2 separate regions of the Homo sapiens genome follow, and region 2 is linked to region 1. Evidence: fine-mapped expression QTL. A gene starts in region 1. The other region holds a variant in brackets. All regions are shown on one strand. Distances are from middle to middle. Region 1 holds the start of STIMATE (STIM activating enhancer). Region 2 holds the start of MIR8064 (microRNA 8064).

Region 1 (15,472 bases):
CCCAACTCATGAATACAATGTAATAACAAGGATGAAGACACACCCCCAAGGAGGGCCTAACATGTGCCTGACACCAACCCAGCTTCCTCAAACACATTCTTTCTCATCTCCATAGCCCCAGAAAAGACAGATTATTACCACATGTTACTGGGGAGAAAACTGAAGCTTTGAGAAATGCAGAAGTTGCTCAGGGGCACCACATGGCAGAGCGAAGCAGACATGGATGCTGGGTCAGGCTGGATCCAGAGCCAGGGATCCTGTTATTTTTAACCACTTGTAAAACCCCTTCAACAAATCTTCATGTTTGTGCAAATATACTAACTGCAAAAGACTTTAAACAGATATTAAAGCAGCAGAAGCATGAGAGGCCCCAACAGGGCAACATGTGGCCAACAGAGGTATTCAAAAGTTTAAAAAAAATGCATTTGGTAAGTTATTCTACAACTCAGATTGTCCCCTAATTCAGACAACTTCCTGTTGTCCTGATTTTATTCGAAATTAATGAAGTTACATGATAAATCAAGCAGCAGATTGCCATTATGGATAAATGCTACCAAATAAATAAACATTTAGAAAACCTGAAAACTTTCTAAAAATGAAAGCTCTGAGCCAGCCAGTATGCTAACATTGGCCACAACACCAGCTTGGCATGAAAAAAGGGGCGTTCTTCCTTTGCCCATGCTGGCACTCCAGAAGGAGGAAAGGACAGCGACACTGATTGAGTTTGTGCTGGGTTCCAGACCCAAAGACAGGCGCCTTCACTCGTGAGCTCCAGCTCCAATTCAGCTGTCACTGTATTCTGTTATTTTACCAGGAGGAGGTGATCACTGGGTGAAAGGCTACTGGGAAACAGAGTATTCACATGATCTCAAAGTATTATCACTGCAGAGATCCCTTATTAATTGCCCAGGGGAAGATGTACCTTTACGAGGGAGAGACTGAGAGGTCTTCCATCCACCATCACCAAGTCATCAACCTTATTAACACTAATAGTGGGGCAGCGTGATGTCACATGCCTCCTGGTGGAATGTACATGAAACATACAGCGCCGCTTATGGCGTGTTCTTGCCATAAAACTGGGTATCTGAATCTAATAACTGCTCCAGACCAAACTCAGGAAAACAGGGGCCAGTGAAACAATTCAAACACCACAAGGAAACACCCAGACAACTCCAGAATGTGGGGCACTCCACACAACAAGCAGCCAGAACTCTTCAAAAAGCCAGAAACATTGAAAAAAAAAAAAAAGTGTGCATGTATGTGTAGGAGGAGGTTCTTCTAGAAACGAAAGTGACTGAAAACGTAACCAGACACAACGTGTGGACCTTGATTGGATCTTAGCTTTTAAAAACTCCAGCTATAAAAGACTTGTGACATTTGGGGAAATGTGACTATGGACTGGATATGAGATGATATCATGGAGTTATTATTAATTCTCTTAAGTATGATGATGAAATTGTGGTTATGTGGGAGATTGTCCTTATTTTGGGGAGACTTAGCTGAAGTATTTAGCAGTAAAGTGTGATGCTGGTCACAATTTACCTTCAAATGGCTCAGCCAAAAAAAAAAAAGCATAAAGAGGTAAAGCAAATGTGACAAAATGTGAACAACTGCTAAATCTAGGTAGAGGGCAGACAGATGTTCAGTGTATTATTTTTCATGTTTTCTACGTTTGACATTTTTAGAGATAAAAACCAGGATGGGGTGGGGAGAGGTGATCGTAGGGAAGGTTGTGCCAACACAAGCCTGTTCACACAGAGCACACAGGGAGGCCGGTTTACCACGGAGAAAACCCCAGAAACTCTCATTTAAGATATCAAAGCTGAGTGGACTGGTTTGTGATTTTTACTTTGGATTGCAGGAAAAAAGTTATCACTTCTCAATGTTAGCAGTGTTTTTGTAAAACATGGACACATTTCTCCCAGCTGGCTAGGCCCCATGTCTATAACAAAAATAGGCAGGCAGATTTATCCAAGCTCTCAAAATGCTTGTTTTATTAAAAACCAATTCTGTCTACACTTCAGCCCAGAACCCTGACTGTGCACGGTGAGGGAGGCTTGAGTTTGCTTTGCATTCACATGTCCTGAGAGCAAACACCCCCAAATGCCAACACACACACTGGCCAACACGACCTTTGGCTGACAGCTGGTTGGCTACCCTGCACTGGAACAGTTTGCTGAGCTCTAGGACTGCTTAGCTCTGTTCTGCTGAGACCCTAGCTGAGCAACTTTGTCAAGTCACAGACTATAGACAAAACCACCAAAACGAGGAATTGCTTAAAACCACCAAAACGAGGAATTGCTTGGCAAAGCCCCCTCGTTTAAAGCGTTTCTTTCTATGCAGATACCTAGCAGACACTTCAGAAAACTCTAAGTGGAAAGTATCTTCATAAGCTTGTCTCTGAGTATGTTCATCTTTCCTTGCGTACACAGGGTACCTTAGCTGGAGCCTCTAGGAAGCCCGCCAACTCAACAAGGCAGTGCTGACACTGGGACATGTGTGTGGGTGGTGCCTGTAACAGTCTGCATGTTTATGCAGCTTGAATAATGGGCTACCATGTATGACCTGGCATATACATTCTCAACTGCCTGGACCAAGAGGGTCTATAAACCCTACATAGTAAGGCAAGAAGTCTATCAAAGCACCAGAATGAGAAATTCTTGCAGAACCAGAATCCTCCCCAGAGACATTAATATATATAAGTAATCTTCCTTCAGGACAAACCTCTCCAGATTAAAAACAAAGAAACAAACAAACAAAAACAAGGCAACGTGTAAGTGGAGAAAAAAGTGATTTTTCTGGATAGAAAAAGGAACATAAAGACAGTGGTCTGAGGGGTCACTGAAATCAGGGAGGTGAAGTAAGGAAAACTACCTCACAGCTTGTCTGCAGAGAAATGGGTTCATTCTACAGTCAGAGCTGGTCCAACAGGAAACAATAGTGTTGGCCATCAGGACTGGGGAAGCGTTCCAGAAGACAGGCAGTGAGCCCATTGCCTCGAGGGCCACGGGTACTCAGAAGGGAAAAGACTGTGATCTCAAAAACAGCCCCTCAAAGGACAACGGCTGTTTAAACTGCTCAGAACAGACTGGTTGGTATTTAAAATGTTTGAAGATAACAGAACTGAGGAAGGATGGAGTGGCCTCACCTTAACACACACTAAGACTTCCCTCCCTCAGGGCTGCGAGGGGGACCCTCGTCAGGGGAGCCTGGCCTTCAACAGATGCCCCTCCTGGCAGCTCCGCCAGACTGAGAAGGACGGAGGACTAATAGCCCAGGACAAAGCCAAATGGCTCGCAGATGTACTTCCTTAAGGCTACCTTGATCTCGTTCCTCTTCCACCTTAGAGATTTCTTCCTCTTCCCAGTAGTTCAAGAAGGAAAAGCCTCGCAGTTCTATTTCAACAGGACCAAGAAATCTGAGAGATAAGAAGGGCCCCACCCTGACTGCATCCCAGTCAGTGGGCTTCTTCTTGTCCAGCTCCCAGAGTACCATTGCCCTGGCCTGCTCTGTCTGCTTCTAGGTAGGGGGAGGAGGCTCTTGCTCTCACCTCCATTTCTGTGTCAGGGCAGACATAGCTCTAGCCTTTCCAGCTCTTCTCCCCATCACTCCTACCCACATCACCCCAGGACCCACCAGCCATTTCCACAAGCTCCGTCCACGTCAAGCCTCACAGTGAACAAGAGACTGCTTTCTAGTTCAATCTCTGCACACAGAAAGTACCAACCACAGTGGGATTTGCACATGTGCTCACGCTGAAGATTAAGTAAAGAAGTGAATATGTCCCTGAAGACTCCACTCAGAACACATTCAACCCGATACACTTCTCAGCTGTGAGCAACTCTGCCCTGTCATCATCACATTTCCTTCTCTGAATCACAAGTGTCAAACCCTAGGGGACAAGCCGGGCCATCAGCATCAATCAAACCTATGGAAACAGCCAGAGCTAGGCTAAGAAACCTCAGGTTAGGGAGCAAAAGAAAAATTTAACCTACACTTCCTTCAGAGAGAAAGGAAGGCTGTCTGGAGGACAGAGAAGTAGGAGGGGTATGAAGATCCACTCACCATGTCTTGAAAACACACACGTACAGTACATGCGCCCAAGTCAGCAGCGGATTTTGGCTAAGTTGTCACAAATTATTACTGTGGGAACAAGTGGGTATTTGTTTAGCAGAGAAAAAGCAAGGCAAGTTGGGACTAAAAAGGAAAGAAAAAGTGGCAAACATAGACAGTTGGGCACTTATAAGACTTATCAAGGACAGGCCACCAGAAGAACGCGGTATCCATGATCAGAGCCTCTTCAGGGTTACTTAAAGCCTGAGAGAATTCACTCAAAGAAACCCCAAGTTATAAACAAGCAAGGTGGCCACTCCAGCAACTGGACCCCACAAGACAAAGGCACACAGCTGCAAGATCCCTCCTGAGTACCCCAAAGCATACTTTCTGCAGGAACTCTCCACTCTGTCCACACAAGCACAGTGGGGAAGTTTTGAGAACAAGTCATTTTTGGAATTAATGACTCTGCACAGATAGTTATAACCTTTCCTTCCCCCTAAAACGCAGTCACAAGGGCACTCCTAGGCTTACATGTCGAGCAAAACTTCTTGTTACTTTAATAAGGGAAGGATGCACACGATGAAAAACAGAAGCCCCCCCCCACCCCCCATCAGCACACATGAGAACAGGGTGGGGGCTTCCTTCTCTATTCAGCCACTAAGGTGCCCAAGTTTAATGGAAAAGGAAACTTAAAATATAAAGAATAAAAGTGGAAAGGGAACAGCCAGGGGAAGCTATAGATGCGGCTTATTAGGAAAGCTTGGGACAGAGATGGAACAGGTGGGCCTGTTCCGGAAGAAACGAGAGGAAGGGGATCTGGGGAAGAAGGCAGACTGGGTGGGTCCTACCCTGACAAAAGGGAAACTAAAGCTGAGGAAGAAGGGCCACGGAGAGGGAGGCGGGTACTGGGAAACGGAAGGCATGGCCCTAACACTCCAGGTGTTGAGAGGGATGCAAAGTAGCAGGATTTAAATGTGAACGGAGAAGGCAGATCCTTGAAGAGTGAAGGGGCAGAAAAGAGCTCAGCATCGCACTGGGGATTGAGGGATGTGGGTTCTAAGCACGAAGAGCCCCTGAGAAGGGGCGGACAAGGGGATGTCACCCTTGGGGGTCATGATTCCAGGCTGGGAAGTGGGGTAACAATTCGAGATGGTAAGGTGGGAGGTAGGCGAGTTTTAGACTGGCGTCTCAAAAGACAGACGTTTAAGGTGGAAAGGGGAAGGGTCACTCCTGTCTGGAGGCCACAGCGAGTAGGTGAGGGGCTCGGGCTACCCCTAGTGCAGGAATACCCAGCCTGGGTTTGCGGGGGAGGAGCAATTCGGGTCCCAAGGCCTGAACTCTCCGCGCAGGAGGGGCCCCCAGGGGGGCCGGGCCGCGGCTGCCGCGCAGGGCCTCCGGAGGGTCGGGGGGTCCCAGACTCACGCATTAACGTGCTGAAGGCCACGACGCCGAGCAGCCCCTGCAGGAAGATGCCGAAGCTGTGCATGAGCGCGCCGCTCTCGCAGCGGCCCGCCCCGGACGCGACTGTGGAGGGCGGCCCGCCTGGCAGTCCCCGGCTCGCGTTCCCGGCGGGGCCCTGCATGACAGGCCTCGCGGGAGGGGCGCGAGGGCCCAGGGCCCGCCCGGCCTCGCTGCCTGCCGGCGCAGCGCCGCCAAACCCGCAGCCGGGATCCCAAGCCTGAGCCGGTACCTCCGCCCGGCCGCCGACTCCGCGCCGCGCGTAACCCGACGTCTGAGATCGCAGTGCCTGATTGGCGCAGCCAAGGTTGGGGCGGGCCTCGGCCGCGGCAGCTCTCCCCACCCGCCCCCGAGGGGCGGGGCTCCGGCCGGGCCACGGGGCGGGGTCGCGGGTCCCGCTCCCCTCTCCAACCCCGCCACGCCCGCAGGTAGACAGGCCAGGTGAGCCGGCCACCGCAGACCGGAATGAGAGCCTGGGAATCACGAGCTCCAGGTCCGGAGGTAGGAGCTGGGACGGCCTGTGGTCAAATTATTTTTCCCTCTAAGGAAAATCCCTATATCCTGGAGAAATTATCATCATTCCTGAATTCCACCCTCAGAGATCGTGATTCAGTAGTTCTGGGGTGGGTCCCAATAGTTTGCAGCCTGGATTATTCTGAAGCAAGTGAATAAGGAAAACAATCTGAGACTGAGTACAGGAGTCTTCCCTCCAACCCAGACATTTGAGTCTTTTTCCTACTTCCCTAGCTAAAGGCTTATCAAGGCCCCAAGTCTATTTTCTTTTTTCATAGACATAATTTAAATGGTCACCTGAATCCAATCACTTTCATTTGGAAATATACCAGGTTTCACACTGAAAACCTGACGTGCACATGTCCCACCTTATTCACTTGGGGAGCACAACTACCTTTAGAGTGTAAAAGACAAATGGTTGGTATTTTCCAGGCTCCAACATCCCCCTGCACACACACACTCCCATCTAACCCTTTCCAACTTCTCAGAACCTGTGCTCTGCCTTTAACAAGACCCTGAGTCCCCATTCTCTCACCCATTCTCCCAGCCCAATCTGGGCTCTCTCTGGATACCTTCTTGTTGGTGCTCTAGAGCCGCTGACCTTCCTGCTGCAGAATGTCAGTGAACACATGGTGTAAGTCCAGTTGACACTCACCCATTCTCCCAGCCCAATCTGGGCTCTCTCTGGATACCTTCTTGTTGGTGCTCTAGAGCCGCTGACCTTCCTGCTGCAGAATGTCAGTGAACACATGGTGTAAGTCCAGTTGACACTCACCCATTCTCCCAGCCCAATCTGGGCTCTCTCTGGATACCTTCTTGTTGGTGCTCTAGAGCCGCTGACCTTCCTGCTGCAGAATGTCAGTGAACATATGGTGTAAGTCCAGTTGATACTGAGCTACGTGTTTTCAACGGTAAATATCATCTCTAGGAAAAAGTTTCCTATTAAATAGCCCCCCAAATTCCAATTACCTAAGAGGGTTATATGCTAGCTAAAAGCTTTCTTGGTGAACAGGAATATTAACCTGATTAGAGAATAAAAATGCAATTCTCCAGCCTTCTCTTACATTTTCACACCTCTGTGCCTTTATGTAGCATTCTAGCTGCATGGATGCCATTCCCTTTTCCCTGCTCCATGAACTGCTCCTCATGTGTCAAAGCCTTTCTGACCTCCCTCTCCCTCTTGCTCCCACATTACCTAGTGTGTACTGTTCCACCAAAACTTTTCAGACTGCTAAATTTGACAGCTGTACACATGTCTCTCTCCCACAGCTAAGTGTGAGCCTCCTGAGGGCAGGAATTATTTTTATTTACCCTTCAATTCAAATTCAGTATGGTGCCTGGTACAGAGAACATGCGACAAAATGCTTAATTTAAATGGAATTTTAATTTATAAAATTTTAAACTCTCCACAAGTACTGGCCGTGGGCAAATACAGAAAATCAGATTAAAAAAATAAATGGATAAGGGAAAATTAAAATTGCATGACTGTCTTTTAGTCTAAGAGGGATCTTATGAGGATGCTCAACAGTTAACAGTACATGTTTAGAGAGAACCAAACAAGAGGCTACGTCTTAAAGCAGAATAGATTGTGGTTGGGCATAAGGAGACTATTGATTGCTTGAAGACACAGACAGCTCAAGGAAAATTGGACATAGAGCTGAAAAGTGATGTTTTTGACAAAGAATTGTTCTGCACATCCAGCTGTGGAGGAATCCTTAAGGCTCACAGAGGAACAAACAAGAAGCAGTCTTCAGAGATCAGGGGCGGAATCCCCAATGTCAGGAGCAAGGTTGCTGTGGGGAAATTCTACTCTTCCTATCTTTCCTGAACTGGAATTAAAAAGCACCTAAATCCAGAAGGTAAAGGATGAGACAGCAAGAGAGGGGGAAGAATTCCGGAGTTTTATTAAAGTAGGAAGGAACTTCTCATCTATTTGGAAATGATTCTCTGAGGTCCCGCTGGAAAGAGTTTTAAAAAATTTACTCTGGCCAAAATGCCTTCCTTGTTGTCAAATCAGCACAAAGTTAAGGTTAAACATAGCTTAAGACCTGTTCTCTTTAGTTTTCTCACAACCACTTAAAACTGTCATAACGTACCACCAGTTTATATACAATCATATTTACAAAAAAAACACGCAAAATATTAATCCAAAATAGTTTTTTTTAATCCTTTGAAGTTATACCATCAAACTTGATGGTAGTTATTTTAATAGGTATTCTTGTGCATACTTCTTAAGTGTACTTTTATCTTTAATGCATAACTTTTGAAATTAAGAGGAAAAACAGCAAGCAGGAAGGATACAATGCAATAAGCATTTGATTTTGTTCTAAATGAGCAGCTTTAAAAAAAAAAGGTAAAATACATTAAACAAAGTGCATCAGTTCCAACAAGTTAGTATTAAAAAGAGGCCTAAGGACAGTGCTGGAACCAGCCAGGAGTCCCTCCCTGGCAGGCCTCTGATTGTCTTCAGAGAATATTCAATGAAAAAAAAAAAAAAAAAAAAAAGGAAGAAAGGAAGGGAGGGGAAAAGAAATGAGCACTTGAAATCTCAAGGGAAACATTCAAACTACCGTCTCCAGAGATTCTTGCAAAAGGAGCTAATGGACTGCCCAACTTTAACTCTGCCTAAGCTTTGTAACCTCCCTCAATCATCTGCTTTGTGACTTGATTTGCCCTAAAAGCCTACCCTCATCCTTTCAGCACTTTTGTCCACCTCCATTCTGCCAAGCTAGGTATGCAGTTAGATTGAATAAACCATGTAGAAACCCTCAGGCCTGAGTTTCCACACATCCTGAGAACAGGCACCCCCATCAGCAAATGGTGGCACCATTTCACTAGAAGGCACCATTTGCCTCCAGAAATAATGGGAGACCCTTGCCTCCCACAGATCAGGGTCCGTGCTTTTCTGCTGGTGTTGGAGACTTATCTGGCAAGGCTGTGGCTTGCTTCTCTCTTAAAACAGTCCTTTGTGATAGGCCATAGCACCAGGACAGACCCAATGGTGTATTAAGTCAAAAAAGACTCAAGAAGAGGGAGTTTTAGGCCTACTTCTCTATCTCCCCAACTCTCCACTCCTGGTTTTGCTGGTTCTTGTGAAAATCTCAGGCTTCTTAAACACCATACCCAAGAAAATGACTCTGCAGTGCATTTGCTGCCCACCACCTTCTACACCTCCCCATAAAGCTGCCCTCAGAAACAAGGCTACCTGTGTGGTCTGGGACAAGTACTGAAAAAACACCCCTGAAACCACCCTTGGAGTGGGCCTGGAACCAGATCCAGTTCGACTGAGCATTGAATTTAAAACTTATGCCCAAACTCTAAGTCATAGGTAGCTTGTTTGGATAAATTCAAGTTTCCAAAGTATGCACATTCTCACATAAGGGGTGGGAGTCATCAAAACTCACTAGTAAAACATCTAAAGTGAACAAAGTCAAGGAAGAATTATAATCGCAGGAAAGTAACATTTCTTTTTGGTTTTGCAGGAGGCTCTCTGTCCTACGATTTCTGAGTCAGCACCATGACAAACATATGGTTGCTTACAGTGGACCCAGGAGCAAGGAAATCCAAGCTTGCAAAGGGGGCATCTGGTCCCCACCAAGATTTGTACTTCATTTTTTGTAGTGATGCCTTCTACTCATTTAACTTCATAAGACCAACAGATTTCCTACTGATAACACAGAACACTTCTGAACTGGTGTGTGCACACACGGCACATCCTCAATATACAGGATCAGAGTTCAAATCCAGGGTGTGTTCCACTGTTGATCAATTAAACCAGTAAATGGTGTCTCAAATAGAACAATCTTTGGTGATATAGGTGCCAAGTAAATATAATTGCCTGTGATAGTTTTCCCAAATGTTCCCATCTAGATTGCCTGATATTCTATGTGTCCCTCAGAAACACTTTTTGGCTTGAGAGAGGGAAATGATTCTGAGTCCCACCCTACCTAAGGCCTCCTAAAGCTTTTAAATTGTATTCAGGTACCACATTCGTGACTGAATTGGTACTAGAGAGCAAGTAAAGTGTATCCAGGTCCTCTGGAAGCTAAGGTCCAATGTCTTCTCTCTCACAGTGAGAATATTTTACTTCCAGGAGAAAAGGCATATTAAGGCTAAGTTCTGAACTAGTTTTCTATGTTTGCTTCTACCATAAGTCAATAAATATTTATCAAGAAGCTCATCTTTTCCAGAGGTTAGTAAGTACCCTTCCCTGACCTCACATATCTATAACATAGATAAATGCTAGGAGCCACCTGCATTGCTGAACAAAGGCAGATAGCGTGCAAGCTTCCATAAATGCATTCCCTGCATTAGCCACTTCAACTCTGCTTCAAATGAGAAGGATGAAGATGGTGTACAAAGGAAAACAGCATAGTCCCCAGAAGCCCTCAAAATCTAGTCAAAATGTCACAGAAAAATCTGCATGTGCAGCAAAAAGGTTTCCCTAGCACACTAATTGAGCAGTAGTAGTCTAATATTGGTCAGCCAGCTTTTCAAGGTCCAGGAGGATGAAGTAGTCCATTAACCTGTTTTCTAAACTTGTCAATTCAGGGTAAAAAATGGGTCATGAAAAATTTTCTGACCTCAGGCAGGCTGTGGGCCCAGCTGCAGGTGAAATCCAGACAAATGCAGTCCCTTCACAATGTGACTGTTACACATTTAAGAAGTTGGTCTCTCTAAAAAACAAAGTTCTTGCACCTGTGTGCAACATACCAACATTTTACCCCAACATGGTGAGCTATTATCTGGCTTGAAATCTGTTTCAGCATCACAGTAACCAGAACATCATTGTTATCTAGCCCAGTCCCAGCAGCTTTGTGAGGTAAATTAAGTCCAAACTTTAAGTTAAAAAAGTGCCCTGTGCTAAATTCCCAATTATCCTTGCTTACATAATATACGGGAGTCGGCGCTGGGGGATATAATTCTTTATGCAATTGCCTAATAAACTATGCCTTAATAGGAGAATGCAAGAAATATTAAGGGAAACTCAACTTACTTGACCATTTAGAGTCAGCCTTTCTCTAGGAACGGGCTGAGCCTGAATAATCATGGTATAAACAAGCCTGTTGGGCTCTGACTCTACCTAGATCAGAGACTACGTAGGGCTGTATGTTTTGCCCTTCAGCGCCTTCATCCCCTCACCTGTGAAGGGAGATGATTCTTAATTCTGTGGTTTCTGGAGAAGTCAAAAGAGAGACAAAATAAAGCATTCATTGTTCTTGTGTTTGGTAAATTCCCTCTTATAGGAAATATATTTCACTTTCCTAAATAAGATAATAACACGAGGCCCTAAACATTAATTCCAGAAATTCTGTTCCATTATTCTTCCTCAAGGGGCCCTCTTTTCCTTAGTACCTTGACTGAACTCTCAGGAAATTTCATTAAGCAAGATTACCACCACTACCCACCAAAAGCTTAATGTTTAATGCTAATTATTCCCTAGCATTCCCTATATATCCTTGTCTTCCACAGACACAGATTTAAATTTTTAAAAACTGGATCTCTAAGTTTCAAACATACTAATTTTTACTTAAATGAAGCTTCTTCCCAGATAGATCTGGTAGGAACCTAAGTGAAGAGTTAATGATTTAATGTATGATTTAGTTGCAGGGCTTGAGTTAAGTTGGTTTATGAATTACCCAATGAAGAGAGGCTCCAGATTATTCATCAATGTCCACAAAAATAGGTTGGGGTGGTGGGGAATGGGAAAAAAAAATCACAATCAGTTAAAATTTGCTGTAATATTTCCTTATATTTGTAGAGCTGTTTAGAATTCACCCAGTTTGCAGGATTAAAACATTTTCAAATCTTGAGGAAGAATGATTGGGTTATAAATTTGCAGGTGATTAGGATAAAAAAAATTCAGCAAAGCAAACCATTTAAGGGAGACAACCTATGTATGTTTTTCCTCACTCCTCATGACTAGAATAGTGCAGCAAACGCTATTATTCTATAATAGCTAGCAATGGAATAGTAAGTGAAAATTCACCTGGAGTTTCATGTTAACTTGAGCTGGGCTAAAAGACACACTTAAAAGAATACTGAGTTGTTTAAATGGGAATCCTCGGACTAAAGATTATATTCAATTTAAAGGATTAGCTGAAAAAAGTCTAAGTGTGGCTAGGCAAAGAGGTTTCCAGAATCCTTAACCACATCTCAGTATTTATCCTGCCACTGAGGACACTGCTAACAGAAACTCCATGCTCTGCGTTACCCTCCAAAACATGTTTTCTGTGCTGTGCTTCTACACTGGAGACACCTGGAAAGAAGGACAAATGGGCTTCGCTGTGGGTCCATGGAACACTTACTGATTTTCACCCAAAGTAAAGACCTTAGAAATGAAACAGAGGTAGACAAACAACTCTAGAGAAAAGTAAACACAAAATAAAAGTCACTGAAGTCCCTCTGAGAATGAATAGGAAGAGGGCAATTAAACAGAAATACTAACAGTCTTGGTGATGTTACTTAACACAGGCAGCCTCGGCTGGGTCAAGATGGAGAACAGTAACAGTAGAGTTCTCAGATCAGGTCAGTTAAGGAACTGGTGTAAGTGCCCCATATAATGTTTTTAAGAAAGCAAACAGTTTCCCCCCCTCCAAATTCTGTCATAATTTTAGTGTTTATGTAGCTTAAAAATGGCATCATACAAAAAACCTCATACATGGCTGTAAGCTCAATTATCAACAGAGGTAGTAAACAAAGGAACTCCTAAGAATCGATTTTAAAATGATCAAAGTGTGACTATACATTCAAAACCCTAGAGCCACATAATCATCCCCAAAATGAACTGTTTTAATTTTAAAAAGTTTAAAAACACAATGACAATGAAGCACTGATATGCCTTAGGAACAGTCCCAAATCAGTGCTGACTTAAAGCTAAGTCCTCTCTTTCCAAGAAAAAGAAAGCAGAGAACAAAGTTCAATCTACAATGGGAGGGAACAGAATGAAAACAACCAAAAGGGTGCTTTCCAGCAGCCTAGGTTATTCTTTGTTTTCAGGCCACACCACTGGAAATGCTTTTCTTCTTATATAAGTCTTTTCCTCACAACCTTTATTTTTTAAAAACTGCCATCTGCTGAACAAGAGATGTCCACATTTCCACCAGCAGGTGATCCACTTCTGTGCACAGTTTTTGCTTCCTCACTGTGAGTCCTCCTTCCCCGAAAGTGCAAAGAGAGCAAGCTGATACCTGCAGGCCCCAGAGCCCCAGGACTATTCCAGCTCCACTTATAAAGCAGGGTGAAGGATTTGCTGCATTTGTGCTTCAAAGATCCAGCTCACTTTGGTTGTCCTTCTCAGTTGGCAAACTGCTCATAAAAAGCAAACTTGATCCTCTCTATGTGATGGCAAAGTTTGATGGCAGGGCCCAATTTTAAGTCCATGCATTCTTGAACAGTGGGAAGGGTAAGGAGCAACAGGGCCTGCCCATCAATTTCCTGTTAAAGCATAAAAGACAAATTATCTGTGATGTGCACATGAAAGGCAGCTTGATCATGACAGCCTCTCCTCACTTTAGCTCTGTCAAAACTGGAATCCCTATGCTTTCCTTTCCTTACTTTTTCGTCTTAGGTATCACACACTTCCTTTTAAGTGACTCCATAGTCTTCCACACTAATGAAGCTTCAGAATTAATAAAGTTTTACTGAGGACAATAAAGTTTTACCAAGGATAAGAATCCATTCCAGAGTCTCTGTCCCATAGAAATTTAGTAAACTGACTAGCCCTGTAACTGGCAACTAATTGTGCCATCTTTTTAGAGGGTTCCTTCTAAATCTGAAACAAAGGATTAACTATCAACTTCAATGTTTTCCTACTCTGTAACATTCATAAAAACCCGATAAGCTCTTGAATCTCCCTAATTTTCTAAACAAAACTTATTTCAATGTTTAAGGCCACTGACTGTGTTTCAGCAAGCTTGCCTTAAAACTTATCACCACTCTAGAGCCTAATGTGACAGATGCTATTTTTTTTTAAACAAGCAAATCATTATTTTTGAAAAGATGTGGACAATTAAGCATGGTATGCTTGATATTGGAGGGATGGAATCAAATTCTTAGGAAAAACTGGAATGCAATGATAATCTCCTTCAACTATGAAGCAAGTCTGATAAATAACTTTTTATCATCTTTGACTCCTAAAAATGGAATTAAGACAATTCTTGTCTTTTGGATCAAAACATTTTTCCTAAAACTTGTAAATAAATTGTTGACTATTACATCCATAATTTATTGCTAAAGAGACATTACTAAAAATTATAGGTATCTGTGATTACCTGGTCTAGGAATATTCTTGCTAATGGAGCACAGTCAGTGGATCTGATGAACCGCACAACGTCTGCCACACTCCACTTCAAGGGGTTACTGTCCAGGTGAAGCCTTTCAGCAACTTCGATCCTTATTTCCTTCATTCCCCACAACACAATCAAACCAAATGGTGTTACGGCTATTTTATTCTAAAAAAGTCTCTCTACCTAAATTCATAATCTTTCAAGACATGATTTAAAGTGGTCTTAGGACATGATTTCTCCCAGCAAAGATGGCAAAGACCCACGTGCATCAGGTACTCAGGAAATGTCTGTCTTTTATAATACGAAGTATCAATGGGAAAGAATTTATCTCAAAGTTCCAGCACAGATAATTTAGACAATTTAACTAAGAAAAACAGGGTGCTGAAGAGAAGGGGATGATAATTCCATTGAGAGAAGGCTTAACTAAACTACCAGGAGGAATCTTTACTGCTTCTGTTCATGGAATATTCTTAAAAAGCAATCTAGTTTTTGAACACTAAATTGTTCTTTAGTGTTATACATATGTTATAAAATGTTCATATGTATATAGTAAATAATATATTAAGCCAAATGGCTTAACCAGAATCAAAAGGATAACTTTTTTCTACAAAACCATATATATTATGAAACATATTAAAAAGGCAGTTTTCCCAAAAATAAATGACAAGCTACAAATAAGCTAGCAATGGGGCTTTTTTTGTTGTTGTTGTTAAAACAAGCAGCTACTCTGAGAGAGACTTTCCCCCTATAAGTAGATGATCTCAACTAATCCTTGAAACACATGTAAATCACTGCATTTGGGGTCACTTTACAAGAGACCCTGGAAATTCTACATAAGTCTGTATTGAAAGAAGTAGAATGTCAATATCACTAATAATCATATTCCAGATGGAAATTCCAGAGAGAAAGAAAGAAAAAAGAAACTATTTTTTAAATGGTACCTTTGGTGAAGGAGGTTTATTTTCATCGTCAGAAAATGAAAAGGTGCGAAGCTCCCTTTTTCTCCTTTGTCTATCTGGAGGCAGCGATGTGGATATCTCACTTTGGGTGGGAGAAGAGGAGCATGACTTTTTTTCTGACATTTCTGATTCTTCCTGTAGCTCATCCTGCTGCTCGGATGTACTGCCTTCACTTAGGGAATCATCATCCCCTTCATC
Region 2 (15,472 bases), 53 kb before region 1:
ACCTCAGCTTTGGAGGGTGAGAAAAACAGGATCACTTTGTGAGGCACATGTTCTCCAGAATGCTGTGCAAAACAAATAGGTGACACTAGGATGACAGGTACCAGGGCAGCAGGAGAGGAGGCTCCTGGCGCTGAGTCCAGAGGCTGGCTCTGAAGGCTGCAGCAGTGGGGGCTGGGAGGCCAAGACCACTTTAAACCGTGATTGGAGGCTCTGCAGACAGGCAGACTGCACAGGAGTCTGGTAGTCTTGGGTCCTCTGGAAACAAAGACCTCTTAGCTAAGCTCCTTTCTTGGTCAAATTTAACTAAGATCTCTAATCTGCCAGCAGGAATGCTAGAGCTCATGGGCCCTGGGCAGAGCCTTTCCTGTTCCACACTCTGCAGCTCCTGGATCTGCATCCAGACCAGCTGCTCCAAGCTTGGGTCTGACCTTCACAGAACCATTGGGTTTGCTGATTCTAGAGAAGGGCCATCCTCCTTCCCTCCCCATCATTTGTCTCATCTTATCATAGGGCATCATCTAATAATATTCCAAATAAAAAACTCCCGATTTTTCCTCCTGCCAGCCCACACCCCATGAAAGGCAAATAAACCCATTTCTTTGGGGACTAAAAAGAGTTTTTAAATACAATAGTATGAAAATATAACTTAAAAATATAAAAGTCAAACAGCATACGGAAGACTTAAAAATCTCTGTTTTGCCCATTAGTCCCGTAAGTACTTTGTAGGAAATAAACACATACCCCCAACCTGGTAACACTGTCACAACTCATAAAACCAGCTTCAGAAATCAATAGTTACAAAAGCCATTTTGAGTAAGAAAGCATTCCGGTTCCAACTTGGTCAACGAGTCACTTTTAGCCCGAGGGTGTTATGTGTTCGCACTGCCCACAGCCACGGTGAGGAGACCCACCCACGGTCTGTGTGCCTGTGCTTCCTTCCACCTTGCCACTCGGTGGTCGGACACGGGGCAGGGCCTCAGGTCCCTCACAACACTGTCTGGGACGACAACAAACAAACACAGCTCCTTCCTTGCATATTTGGTCAGTGTTTGTAGTGCAACTGAATGGGGACCTCCAGCCGCCAGTGGCCCCCTCGGGCGCTGGCTCCTCTTCCCTCTTTTTAAGTCACAGTAGTCTGGGGGCAGGCGAGAGCGGGCAGAGACAGCAAGAGGAGCAGAGGTAGAAAGGAAGGGCAGAGAGAGGGTAAGGAACGATGCTGCGGGATGACCTCTGCACACCAGCGGCTGGCGGGGCCCTCCCGTCACCCCCAGCATGGGAATGTGTCATACGGGTAGCCCAAAGCGGTGCTTCTTTTTCTTCACAGGCTTGAGGGGGGTCAGTCTGCGGAGGTCCTCCTCCACGTCGGACTCCTCCATCTCATCATCCGCTGAGATCAGGATCTGAGGCAGTAGAGAGGCAGGGCCTGAGTCACCCCCAGCAGGGCCTTCTTCATTTGCCCTCCCTGGACCCTGGGCCCTTCAAGTCTCATGTTTTTTTTTTTTTTTTTTGGACAGAGTCTCACCCTGTCACCCAGGCTAGAGTGCAATGGCACGATCTCGCCTCACTGCAACCTCTGCCTCCTGGGTTCGAGTGATTCTCCTGCCTCAGTCTCCTGAGTAGCTGATTACAGGTGCGTGGCACCATGCCTGGTTCGTTGTTTTTTTTTGCTACTTTTAGTAGACATGAGGTTTCACCATGTTGGCCAGGCTTGTCTCAAACTGCTGACCTCAAGTAATCCACCTGCTTCGGACTCCCAAAGTGCTGGGATTACAGGCGTGAGCCACCATGCCTTGCCAAGTCTTAATGTTTCTTTACAAGAGAGTGAGGGGAAGCTCCCTGTACTCAATGAGACGTGCTAGCCTCCACAGGCCATGTTCACTCCAAGGACACTCATGGGCTACTGAAGCCAGCACTGAGTCGACAGACCCCCTTCCTCTGCTAATGCTCCCCACTTCTCAGTCCACCTCCAGGGGAACCGACCTCCATCAGGACAAACTCAGCAGGGATCTGCAGCCTAAGGTCACCCTGGCTAAAAAAAGCTCAACCATGACACATGCAGTTGTTGAAGCTGCCTTAAATACTGCAGAGGCAGACTGAAAAGCCCCTTTCAAAAGGAAGAGAAAGCATCTGTGGGCAGGGGGAGTTCAGCGTGGCTGCTCTGAGCCAACTCTGTAACTGCTGAAGACAAACAGCGGCACTTTGCTGTTCTAAGGCCCTGGAATGACTCAGCCATGCAGCTGGGGCAAACACACTCATCCGCTGCCCGCCTGCCTGGCTCCTTAGACCTCTGAATACCAGGGAAAGGTTGGAACCACCTAGGTTGGGATCAGGAGGTCCAAAGCCCACCTATGCAGGGAAACACGAACTCCTATTCTAGGGCAGGGCAGGCAGTCTCACCTCCTCTTCCCTGCACTGTTCCCTTGCGGGGCTTCCTGCCTCTAGTCTCGGTCCCGACCACCACACTCCCACTGCTCCTCACCGCCTGTACGAGCACATCCCAATGCCTCAGCCTGGATCACAGGGCATTGCCGATCTAGCTCAGCCTGTGCCTCACTTCTTGTCCTTCTGTCCTATGCTCCAGAATACAAGCCACAGTGCATTTCACACTATGGCCCAGACACCAAACCATGTGACTGTGAATGCTCATGAGCTGCTGCTTCTGCCCATAACACTGTTTGCCACTCACCTAATGTTCACCAAGCTCTCATATGACAGGTGCTGGCCAGATTCTAGAGACAAGCACCTAGAGAAGACACGGCTTCCCCTCTGTCCTACTATCTATTCGTCTTCTGAAACTCCCTCCAGGCTGTCCCAGGGCCCTCGTTGGGTTCTGCCTATGCCTCAATCTTAGAACATATTACGGTGTCATGACGAAATACTTATGTGTCCACCTGCACCTCACCCACGTGTCTGACAGCCTCTCCGGGGAAGACGTTTGTCTCAGCTTTTCTGCAGCTCCCACCTGCACACTTCCTAGGCCTCCCATGCCTCCCACGAGCTGGCCCTGCACGCAGATGTGGGGTGAGTGCTGCGGGGCCGCCAGAACACATATCCTGGCCTCAGGGCTGCTATTCATGGCCACCGTTCTTCCCTGAGGTCCAAACCCTTGAACTCAGAAGACCAGAAAATAAGGGGGGGATGAGTTTCCTCCTGCAAGGTCTGGCTACCCCTATATTTTAGAAGTTTCCAGCTGTCTGAGCCAACACTTCCCTTGCTCTTTAGTGTTGGGCAGAGATTCAAATATCCTAATGCTTGAAGATCAACCATTAGGCCCATGACGGTCCTTGCCAGCTCACCAAACAAGGCAGAACTTCCCTCTCCTGTCTGTCATCTCCACTGACAGAGGAACTGTCGCAGGCAAGCCACTCCCATCTGCTCTGCCCTCCTGCCCTAGGCAGGCCCAAGGGACAGTGGGAATGGGTCCTGGCTGGACAGAGCTGTCTGCCCCTCGCTCATCTCTGGCTCAGCCTCTTCTCCTGCCCTCTGGCTCGCACTGTGACTCTGCACTCAAGGGAAGAACATACACAGACATGAGACCAGAGACCCCCTTGGGCCAGCGATACGACGGCTTGGGCCCTTGGAGAGTCAGGGAGGCCCTACCTCAGACTCAGACTCCTCGTGGGATGCGGCCCTCCGGTAGCGGACCTTGCTCCCATTCCTCGAGTCCTGGTTGGCTCCCCTTTCTTCTAGCTTAGCTTTCGTCTTCCCCTTTCTCATGAGGAAATTGTCCACTACCCAAAACATCAAAGCCTGTGGGAAGGAAAAGTGCAGGTTACTTTGGGATAAACCATTTTTCAAAGCAAAGCCGAACAGCCCCCATCCGCCCACTCCCATTCCAGGTTATAAGATCCAGAGCTATGGAAAGAAAAACCCAATCCAATCACCCTGCTCTCTCCCAAAGCTTAGAAAGAGATTCCCAGTCTCCACATCCTCGGGTTCAGTTTTCTGATCAGAGTGTGCAAGGAACGTGCCCTGACGGGTTTTTGTTGTGGTAACTAGGGGGAACAGCCTGTTTGGGGCCTGGAAGCAAGGTCTCTGGACACGCGTTCCAGGCCCCTCCCCACAGACTCCATGTGGGTGGCCGGCACACCCTGCTGTCATCTGTTTGTCCCAGCTTCCCTCACCACTTCTGTTTCTTAACTTCGAGCCATTGTGCTCGGGAGTTTCTCAAGATCCGTGGTCAGGAATGAACGATGGGTACGTTTGGAACAATCCTGAACTAGAGGCTGGCGCTACACATGGGTGGGGCTTCTTGGTGGGAGGCCCCTCGGCAGGGAGGACAAGACAAAGCTCCCAGGCCCCTCCATCCTGGACGGGAGCCCTGGTATGGGGCCCTGCCTTTTGAGGGGGTAATCCTGCCATTTCCAGGTCTGGGGGTGGGAGAGGTGGCAAATGGTCACGCAAAAAGACCTGAGGGCTACAGGTGAGCTTTCTGTCAGACTCAGAACTTTGGACAGGAACCCTGCCAGACAGGGAGCAAATCGGGATAAAAATGCAACATGGCACTGACGTTGACAAAGAAGGGGACGATCAGCATGACGATGGCCAGCTTCAAGTCTGGGTTTTCAATGGGATTCAACAGGGCCACCTGTAAAGAGAAGCAGACTCAGTGAGGTAGGGAGAGGCCACCGAGAGTGTGCCTGGGGTGGGTGGGTGGTACCCATAGGCCCTGAGGGAGCCTTAGCTTAAGACGCTTCCTCCAAAGCCCAATGGGAGCAGCACCTCATGCCTAGGGTTCCCAGATGAGACTGTCCACAAGGAACCCTTGGAGACCACATTAAGCATCTGGTGCTTTGGCAGCTTTCCCCTCAGTGTGGACTTGCAAAGTGCAGTGGGCTTACAGCCACCAAGCCAGGGCAAGGCAAGCAGTGCCCACCGGGAGAGTGGAGTGTGGGCTTCAGGGGGCTGGAGGGGTGAACACAGTGGATGCTCATTATAGACACCAGCAATGAGGCCCCAGACCACTTTCTAACAGAAATCCCACACCTCAACCACCCCTAAAAGACAACAGCACTGAAAAGCCTTGGCTTATTTTCTTAAATAAAATCCAAACACAAATAAAACCCAAAGGAGGCCAAGCTGAGCCACTTGTTCTCAAAGCTTCTGGCTGGTCTCATGTGGGCATTCGGGGATGAGGAGTGGGGGTTTATCTACACAGAACTGGGGTCAGAGGGCGGAAGCCACGGTTGGGGAGCCCGTGGGCTGGCCAGGGCATCGGCACACTGAAGGTCACAGACTGTGGAAGCTGCCCGTGGCACCACATGGCTCAGTTAAACTACCAGCCAAGAGAGGTGTGTGACAGGATGTTTGCCGATGTAGAAACATGTATTGTCGCAAGGCCTAAAAACCACCATCAGATGGTAGCAAGCCGAGGGCAGGGACTGTATTTCATTAGTTTTATACATCCCAAGGCTTCATCTAGAACAGACATTTAAAGTGGATGGATGCTAAGAATTGACAAGCTCTTTGGAGTAGTTGCCACATCAGACCAAATGCAGGACACATTCATAGAGTTAAAACAAGTTTGGTTTTCCTAGAGTTGGCGTATGTGGGTGATGGGGAGGAAGTGCTGCTTGCTCAGCGTGGCAAGGAGCTGCTCATGCAGGGACGAAGCAAACCTTTTTCCACTGAAGTATTAGGAGGACGATGAAGACGACAGACTTTTCAAAAATCATGATCACGATGTAAAGAGCGCACTGCCCGACCCAGGCTCCACACTGCAGAGGGTCTCCTGCAGGGACAGGCGGGTGCTTAGTCACATGGGGCCCAGGCATCTGAGTGAGATGATGTCCCCACCCCACTCCCCCACACGCACCCCAGAACACTGGCTCTAAAGCTCTAAAGGTACTTAATGAGCCCCCCCAAAAGTCCAAAGGATTACCTCATCCTTAACAGACAAATGCAGTATTTTAAATAAAATCAGAGAATTCCTTATTTGAAGATACTAAAATGGCCTTTCTTTTAAGAGATTCTAAGATAGGATTAAAAAGCACTAAAGTTAGGAAGTGCTCATTGCTGGAGCTCAGAAAAGCTGTTCTTTCTGCCGGCTGGCAGCAGAAGCTGTATGAAGCAAGACTGCTATTCTTATCCGTTGTTGATTTTTCCAGTGACAGCGGGGCTGCCCCTCCCTTCTCTGTCCATGAGTGGACTGATGTTTGTGGATGATGAAGCAGGACCCAGTCGCTTTGTTTGTCTCCCACCTCCCCACCTCCCATCCCTTACCCAACTCCCCGGGCCATCCCTGATACCTCAGCCTCTTGAGAGCAGAAACGTGACTCTGGAGGAATTTGGACTCTACCTGTCCAGCATGGGTCACCCCAAACACCTTGGCCAGGGACAAGGAAGTGAAGAGAGAAGTCCTTGGGGCAAGGAGGTGGGAGGGATGGGCCGGGGCCCAGGGCTGTGACAAAGGTCCATCTGGGACCCCTTCAGTCACCATGCTTGAGAAACCGAGGGACCTAGTAGTACAAGCTGGAGGATGTGCAGGCCTTGGAATGCCTCCAGGACATTTTGAACGGAGAGAAGACCAGCCCCTCCAGGGAATGATCCTGTGATATGAAGAACCCTAGGGTGGCTCCTGGGAGCCACATAGGCCTCCCCAAAGTGGGAGACCCAGGGGAGAGTGGGATGTGGGAAGGTTGCCTGGGGCTCACCCTGGAAGTTCTGCCAGAGCTGCCTTACCACAGCTGGCCAGAAGAGGGGGTACAGGGTAGCATTTTGGGGGTGGCGGGGGGGCGGGAGGCTGGGGGGTAAAGGCCGTAATCCAGGCTATGAGAAGATAATTTGGTCCAAAGAGATATCTCCAGCTTCTCACTTGGCTTTATTGTTTCTGCAGCAATCCCTGTTTGGGCACCCATGCTGGAGGCCCATGCCCTGCCCAAGCCTGTCAGCTGTACACAAGGGAATGACTTTATGCAGCTGCAATGGACAAAACACCAGGCCATTCCCTTTTCTGGAAAACCCTGGGAGAAGTGTGGCAGAAACACATCAGTCGCCTCTTCTGAGGTCTTCCTTTCTACTTTCACTTAAGGGATAGGAGACATTTGAGCCAAAAAACCCATTTCATAAGCATAATCCCTCCTTGCTAGGTTGTTAATGAGTTTTGCAATCCTTTTCCTTTCGGTAAGTCACCTAACCTTATCGAGAACAGTTCTCAAAACAACAGATGAACTTATTTGTGAGAAACCATTAAGTAATTAAGTAGGTTTGAGGACAGTTGGACAGAAAGCGCCACTAGGAAATCTCTCTGTGAGGACTGGAGTGTTTGGGAGCCAGCGGAGCGCGCGGCACCGCTTATTTACTATGGAAGGATGTCCGCTCGCTCAGTGTGCTCACTCCATCTGCTCTTCAGTTTTAAGTGACTGACAAGGAGGAAAATGCTTTTCCTCCCATACGCCTCACATTGCCCCAGTGTTCTAGGTTTCTGCTACACAACTTAGCTACAGCTGCCTCTTTAGATGCTAAAATAAGAAAGTTCAGAAACGTGAGAAAAGAGAAAAAGCACCTGTGACCCCGTCTGGCACACCATTTCCTCTGGGAACCCAGATCTCACGCAGCCACCGTTGGGAGAAGCACACGTGGCTGCTGTGTTTCCTGATTCCTGTTTCACTTGCGAGTCTTTCAGATGTCCCCCACAGTCTCCTCTTTAAAGGACAGACATGCCAGGCAGTGTTGCATGTCCTGCTTTGTCATTGCTGTTATTGTTTTCTTAGAGATGGGGTCTCACTCTGTCATTCAGACTAGAGTGCAGGGGCATGAACACGGCTTATTGTATCCTCAAACTCCTAGGCTTGAGTGATCCTCCTGCCTCAGCCTCCCAAGTACCTGGGACTAAGAATGCATGTCATGTGCCTGGCTAATTAAAAAAAATTTTTTTTTTTGTAGAGACGGGATCTTGCTTTGTTTCCAAGGCTGGTCTTAAGCTCCTGGGCTCAAGCGATCCTCCCCGCTTAAGCCTCCCAAAGTGCTGGGAATGACAGGTGTGAGCCACTGCACCTGGACCTTGTGTGTCTTGCTTTTTACTGCAATGAACAACCTCAGGCATGTGGGTGTTTTGTTTGGGTTTAATTATTTCCTCAGTAGAAGTCACAGCAATAGGGGCCAAAAGGAGGGAACACATCTGTGGCGAGAGGCTTTCAAAAGGGAGAGTTTGGCCAGGGATGGGCAGCAAGACCCATGAAGCACCGTGACCCAGATGTCAGGGCTTCCACATGGGAAAGAGTGGCCTGGTAATCAGAGTGCAGACACCATGCGTCACCTGGATCTGGTCTCAACCGCCGGGGCTGTGTGGCTTATTTCCCTGAGTCCCGCATTCTCATCAGCAAACTCTTGGCCTTCTCTTCTAGGAACAAAAGACACATCCTAGAAAAATAAGCCCCTCTTCTTCATTTACATGAGAAGAGAGCTGTGGTACCTCTTCCTCAAATGGATGGGCAGGATAACAGGTGTGGGAGGTGGAATAACAGCCCCACACAGTTGCCTACATCCAAATCCCTGGAACCTGTGAGTGTGTAGCATCACATAGCAAAGGGGAATTGAGGCTGCAAATGGAATTAAGGCTGCTAGTCAGCTGACTTTAAGACAGGGAGAGTGTTCTGAGTGTCCAGGTGGGGCCAATGTAATCACAAGGACACTTTAAAGTAGAAGGCTGCAGGAAGTCAGGGCAACTCGATGTGGGATAAACCCAGCGACTCTTGTTGGCTTGGACGACGGAAGGAGGGGCCGCGAGCCAAGGCTTACAGGCAGACTCTAGAGGCTGGAAAGGGCGAGAAAACAATCTTCCCAGAGGCTCCAGAAGCCAGCCCCATTGACACTGGGACTTTAGCCCAGTGAGACCCATGACAGACTTCTGAACAAAAAAAGATAATCAACTTGTGTTGTTTCAATTTGTGCCATGAAGTTTGTGGAAATCTGTTACAGTAGCAATAGAAAACAACAGAAATTGATGGAAATAGAAAACAACAGGTAACTGAGCAGACAAGCTATCCTTCCTCAGCCTGGGGAAGACTCAGGATGGTCCCCACAGCTTTATTTGGAGACATTCTGGCTTGAAGACTCTGGCTCCCAAAGGCAGTGGTGGGATGACCCAGGGGCAGGGGCTGAGGCAGGCCAAGAGATTGAGAAAGAGGCTGAAACAATATCACTGCCTTCTTCCTTTCCATCCACCCTTGGGGATGAAGACAAAATGTGAGGGAACAGCTGGTAGCGTTAATGCTTGATGTATCCGAACCAGACCTGATCTTCACTCCCAGGTCACTGAGTGGCACCTGACAGACTAGTGGTGACCAGTGGATTCACCTTAGCACTGGTCAGCTATAGTAGAGCTGGGAGCCACACCTTCTAGAAGGGATCTCAACTGCAAAGTAGTTGTGAGCACTGTTTGTGGGGGTGGTGGGAGGGTTTAGGTATCCTGGTGCAGCAGGCCCAGGCTCCCATAGCCATGCACTGGCTGGGTGAGCTTTGCGCGTCACTTAACTCCTTTGGGTGCCCATTCTATAAATGACGATGATGCTGTGCTGGTCCCCCGACTGTGGTCCATTTCTGTTCTGCAGCTGAGGACTCAATGACTCGCAGCTTCTCAGAAGCCTTCCCTGGAGCCATAGGAGGCACAAGCTGTGTGTTGGACACTATCTTAAGTCAGTGACTCATCAGGCATCAAGTACGGGGCTAAGAAAAGCCCTGCCCTGAGCTCATCTCCCCTCAACGGAGACAAACAATTACTTAACATTTCTGGAAATATCCAAGGTACTCATAGCCAGCTCCATGAATTGGCTCCCCTTTTAAACTGTCAGTGCCTTGTGAATCTTCAGCCATCTAGAAGTGAGTGGCCCTTGAGCCCACAGCCATGAGCTCTTTGGGAGGCATGACCAGGACAGGAGAGTGGGGATCCCGAATTCCATCCGCTCTCCCTCCCTCTTGTCCTCTGTGGCCCTCTCAAGGCAAAGGCTCCACTGATACTGATCCACCTGGAAGAGGAGCTTCTGTCTGCAGACACCTGGGGCCAGCTGTGAGGGTGGGAGAGAGCTGATGTTACCCCTAACTCTGTCCTGAAACCTCAGAGGGCAGTGAGGGCCTGAGGAAGGTGCCCTCCAGTACCAGCCGTGTGGAATGGCCTAGCAACAGGACAAGCACAGATGTGCAGCAGAAAGAGGGGCAGGGCTTGCCACCTCGTTATTGAACACCTTCGAAAAATGAGAGCTGCCCCATCTCTTTAACCTGGTAGGCAGGTGATGTGAGCTCTACAGGAAGCTTGGCAGAACGAAGAGTCCCTGCGGGCCTGTGTGTGGGACTGCTGGTGTCTTCCATTAGAAGGAGCAGACATTCAGCCCTCTCTCTGTGTCTAGTGTCTCCTGCCTCCTGCCACCTTCCCTGCCATAAGGTGAGGGCCTTGGTGGTAAAGCAGGCACCCACACCCACAGGAGGGTGTGCTCAAACCCAGAACAGCCCCCTCTACCACACAGAGAAGACAATGGCAGCTCCCCAGCCATTTCTGGATCTGTTTGCCTGGTGGGCCGCATGGGGCAAGGAGCAGAGACCTCCAGCAGTTCCCTCACGCCCTGTCCGGCATCCACAGCATATTACCATATTCGCCGAAGCGCAGGGACTCCCACTGCTGCCACTCTACCAGGACGCTGACGGCGCGCACCCCCACGTAGATGAGCAGCATGCCCACAGTGGCGTCCAGGAGGAAGTTGATGAGGTACCTGTGAGGACAGGGCACATGCATGGTCACGGCAGAAGCCACGGGGCCAGAGGTCATGGCTGATGCAGGGTGGCCTGAGGGAAGCGGATGGACCCAGCATTTGTTTGGGCCCATTCTGGGGGCTGGGAGCCCTCATGTGCCAGTGTAGCTGTCACTACCATGTGCTGAAGCTCATCAGGAGTGCGACCACCTGAGGGAGGTGAGTGAGGGACAAAGACACTTTAAAACTGCCAGTGCTGGCTGCGCGCGGTGGCTCACGCCTCTAATCCCAGCACTTTGGGAGGCCGAGGCGGGTGGATCACGAGGTCAGGAGATAGACACCACCCTGGCTAACACGGTGAAACCTGTCTCTACTGAAAATACAAAAAAATTAGCTGGGCGTGGTGGCGCGCACCTGTAGTCCCAGCTACTC[G/A]GGGGGCTGAGGCAGGGGAATCACTTGAACCCGGGAGGTGGAGGTTGCAGTGAGCTGAGATTGCACCACTGCACTCCAGCGTGGTGACACAGCAAGACTCTGTCTCAAAAAAACAAAACAAAACAAAAACCTGCCAGTGCTTCTGCCAGGCGAAGGTTCAATGGAAGACAGAGTACCTGGAAGCAGCCAGGGAAATCAACAGGAAACAGAACTTAACTGATGACAGAAACACCTAGGCAATGATTCTGCTCACTCCCTGACAGTCCAGCCCAGGAGGCCCAGAACAGTGCTGCTGCACCAGAGAGGTTCAGGAAAACAGCCTCTCGGGTTTCGCAGACAAAGAGGACAGGGCAACATGGCCTTCGCCCATCCCCATCTGCAGTCAAGCATAAGTAATATTTTTACACTGTTTTTTTCTTTTTTTGAGATGGAGTCTCCCTCTATTGCCCATGCTGGAGTGCAGCGGTGCAATCAGCTCACTGCAGCTTCCGCCTCCTGGGTTCAAGTGATTCTCCTGCCTCAGCCTCCCAAGTAGCTGGGATTACAGGCACCCACCACCACACACAGCTAATTTTTGTATTTTTAGTAGAGACAGGGTTTCATCATGTTGGCCAGGCTGATCTTGAACTCCCGGCCTCAAGGGATATGCCCACCCTGGCCTCCCAAAGTGTTGGGATTACAGGCCTGAGCCACCGTGCCCGGCCTACACTTTAAAGAGCGAGCTTTACTCCCCATGGGAAAAGGCAAGATAACTGGGGGAGTGAGAGGAGGAGGCTCTGAAGGGCATACCACATGAACTGTGTTCTTGTACGGTCTGTTTCCATCCGACACAAAATTTTTTCTCTCACCAAAGAAAGGCCCTTTTCCACTCACCCTCTCTTGAGGGCCTTGTACCCAGATCCAGCTGAGCACTGCTGACCACAAGCTCCAGCTCTCCATGGTAGACAGAGTGGGAGACAAGGGCACTGGGTCCAGTACTGACCCTCTACGATACCATGTGGCTCTGAAATCCTTGCAGGTAAGCTGCAGGACACCACACACTCCAGGTGTGGTGAGCTTTCCAGTTGCTGAGGCTTGAGACATTTTGTGTAGTCTCACAGCCTCCTATCCTGGGCTGGAGCTTTGGTGATGTGCACACAGCACTCTGATGCCAGAGGGCGCAGCCTGTGCTAGGGTAGGTCAGCAGGAAAACCAGTGAAAAGAGGGAGGGGGCATTTCTCCTGCCTGCCCTTCCTCTGTAAAATCACAAGGGGTCACTCTTAGACCAGAGATGGCAGGAGCAGCAACTGCTTCCAAGGCAATTTCCCTCTGGCCTGAGGCTATGCTGCTCTCAGATACTTTGTGTCCAAAGCATCTCACGCCTGCGAGAACAAGGACATGTGATGTACATACAGACCTTACTTTCATTCATTCACTTAGCAAACATTTACAAGCCTACTGTGTGCCATGCCTTGGGAATAAAGAGAGAAAGTTCTATGTTCCATCCTCAACACAGATGATTCTGACAGACAGCAAAGCATCATGTGGGCCCTGGAAGCCAGACTGGCTGGGCTCCATGACTCCTGAGCGGTGTGAACTTACAGTATATATAACCTCTCTGTGCCTCAGTTCCACCACTGTAAAATGGGGATGATCAAAGTCTCCATTAATATATGGCAGGCTGCTATGAGGACAAAGGGAGGCAGAAGATGGGGCCAGGATGAGGTAGGCAAGCCTCCTCTGCCACTCCACCTGCTAAGAGAAGCACTATGTGGGTGCCATCAGCAAGGAGGACAGAATATCATGGCCGGATTGAGGTCACAGATGGATTGCTCTGGGGGCTGCATGGAAGGCACATTGCAATGATAAGGTGGAAGAGGTCAATGAGGGTCAACAACAGTTTTGACCCTGAATGGCTGACGCCACAGAGAAGCCCTGGTGTGTCCTGGTTCCAGAGCAGAGACACTCCTGTAGGGCATTATCCTTCCTTGCCAGGGGCGGCTTGGAAACTGGGAGACATAAGGACACTAGAAAATCAAAGGACAGAACTTGGATTGATGAACAGAAAGCCAGTGCATGGGGAAAGTGTCAACACGCAAAGCCCTACAAGCCAACTGATAGCTGTGTAAGTGAGCTCCAGGACAGCATGTACAGGATGGTCTCTCAGAGGAGCACAGAGGAAAAGGGGAGCACCCTCTCCCCAAGCCAGAGGGAGCAGGACCAGCAGCAGAAAGCAAGGCCAGCCTATATTTTCAATGGAGGGGCAGCTGATGTTTGCACTCAAATAGGGAACACTTACAGTGAACAAGGGTCCTCTTCAGTGAGATCTGCTAGGTATACATTTGCAAAGTGGATGAACAGCATTCCTATGGCTTGTTTGGAAGTGTCTAAAAACCTGTACAAAATAAACCAGCACTGGTTATTAGCCTGACAGGAGCGCAATATCCAATTTGAGGAAAACGAGAAGACTGAAACAGGAAGAAAGCCACCCCAACCTTCCAATCACTGGTTATCTCTTCCTGGGGCCTTGAGCACTAACTCAGGCTTGGCATCTCAGCCACCTTTCAAAGCCTTCAATAACACTGCCTTTGAAAACCCTAAAAGGTCAAGGATTGATATTTAAAATACGTTTTAAATTTTTTTCTTACTTCAAAATAAAATGCTCAATCGCTGCTTTGTGATGAAGCCCAAGGTGCCTCTATTTTAAAGAGCTCCCATTCAACTTCACTCACAATGAGCTAAATTATGTGTGAAATTAACAAGACGTGCACAAATCCAGTACTGCAGCTGGATCCCTAAAGAAATTTCAGCTGCTGCCATTTAAACAATGGGCTAGATCAGGGTAGGCAAATTTTTTCTGTAAAGGACCAAAGAATAAATATTTGAGGTTTTGTGCGCCATATGATCTCTGTCTCAATTCCTCAGCCCTGCCGCTAGAGAATGATGCAGTCATAGACACAGCTATTCCAATCATACACACCGGGCCTGAGGGCTGTAGTGTGCCAGCCCCTGGACTAGATGGTAAGCATTTCAAAAAAGAAAAAACAAGGGTGTTAATCTCTGAGAGGAGCTAACCCCGACCCATGTGACAGGAGCATGGTGGAGACAGCGTGTGCCTTCAGTATGTCCTCCACCACCAGCACCAGGTAGCCATTCTCCTCTGTGGTCGAGGCACCTCTTGGTCATGGCTGTCTCTCACAGCCGCCCAGCTGGGCAGGGTCTCAGGACTGCAGAGATTATCCAGACCAACCCAGCGACGGTGGCTGGAAAATCATTCCCTAGACTCACTGCAAAGGAGGAGTTACCAAAGGACAACGTATGTAAGACTCAAGAGAGCCCCAAAGCTAGGTCTCCCACCAGGTCCTGCCCCAGCCCTGAGGTGGGAGTCACACATTCTAAAGTTAACAGGGTTTGAGAAAAATCAACGGGGGGAAAATAAAAAGAATTATCAAATTCGCCAGCAACACGTTTAAGAACAAGTACACGCTTAATAATTTTATCACAGTGATTACTGACGTTTCCTCTGAAGGATAAAATGGCTATTTTGTTAGGAAATGTAGAAGCCCAAGGCAGCCTAAAACAGGCAGCTTCTTGTGGACACAGTGCTGTCTTGAAGAGCTGACTGTATCCTTCCAAGTGATGTATTATTTTGGAGTTTTGTCTTTAGAACCTACTTCTGAAGCTTTACCACCATTTCACGAAGGAAAAATTGTGACTGCAGGATCATAATCTGTGAAATAAATATATGCTTGATGTATATATCAAAGTCTATTTAAGAAATATATGTATTTGGTCTCTGTCCTGGTTTCTGACACAGAGCTCCTAAAACACTTGTAATCTCCTGAGTAACACAGGTGCTAAGAGGAGTTTTTGTTCTAGTATTTGGTCTCTGGCCTTGGTCCTGATACGAGCACCTAAACCTCATGGAATTTCCCGGAAGACAGGAGCCTTTTGCTCTAATGAAGGAAGTCTTAGTGGGCTCCTAGATAGCTTCAGGATGGGGCTAGTCACCAAAAGGACCAAGTCATGATCAGAAACTTAGAACTTTCAGCCCTAATCCCCCACCCTCCAGGGAGAAGGGAGGGGCTGGAGACTGAGTTAACAATCAATCATGCCTACATGATGAACCCTCCATAAAAATCCCTAAACAATGGGATTTGGAGCGCTTCCGGGCTGGTGAACACATCCATGTGCTGGGAAGGGGGCACACCCCAACTCCTGTGCTCAGGACACTTCTGGACCTCGCCCTATGCACCTCTTCATCTAGCGTTCATCTGTGTCCTTTATAATAAATCAGTAAATGTAAGTAAATGTTTCCCTGAGTTTTATGAGCCGTTCTAGCAAATTACTGAACCTTAGCGGGGAAGTGGGGGTTGTGG

The links.
Region 2: its variant is fine-mapped to the expression of STIMATE in whole blood (TOPMed, PIP 0.91).

The regions. Positions count from the first base shown.
Region 1 is chr3:52,891,813-52,907,284 of GRCh38, forward strand. It overlaps STIMATE (STIM activating enhancer), which reads right to left and starts at 5,736. Exons shown (of 8, transcript NM_198563.5): 1 at 5,479-5,736. The coding sequence starts at 5,638. It overlaps STIMATE-MUSTN1 (STIMATE-MUSTN1 readthrough), which reads right to left and starts at 5,736. Exons shown (of 10, transcript NM_001198974.3): 1 at 5,479-5,736. The coding sequence starts at 5,638. SFMBT1 (Scm like with four mbt domains 1) reads right to left here. Exons shown (of 21, transcript NM_016329.4): 19 at 15,257-15,472; 20 at 14,301-14,429; 21 at 11,760-13,464. The coding sequence ends at 13,324. RefSeq lists a silencer at 5,289-5,998.
Region 2 is chr3:52,839,211-52,854,682 of GRCh38, forward strand. STIMATE-MUSTN1 (STIMATE-MUSTN1 readthrough) reads right to left here. Exons shown (of 10, transcript NM_001198974.3): 3 at 13,393-13,488; 4 at 10,582-10,703; 5 at 5,619-5,731; 6 at 4,511-4,588; 7 at 3,601-3,750; 8 at 1,290-1,400. It overlaps STIMATE (STIM activating enhancer), which reads right to left. Exons shown (of 8, transcript NM_198563.5): 3 at 13,393-13,488; 4 at 10,582-10,703; 5 at 5,619-5,731; 6 at 4,511-4,588; 7 at 3,601-3,750; 8 at 1-1,400. The coding sequence ends at 1,284. It overlaps MIR8064 (microRNA 8064), which reads right to left and starts at 7,342; the gene lies at 7,253-7,342. RefSeq lists enhancers at 593-1,094, 5,275-5,775. The variant G/A (reference allele first, on the strand shown) is at 11,115.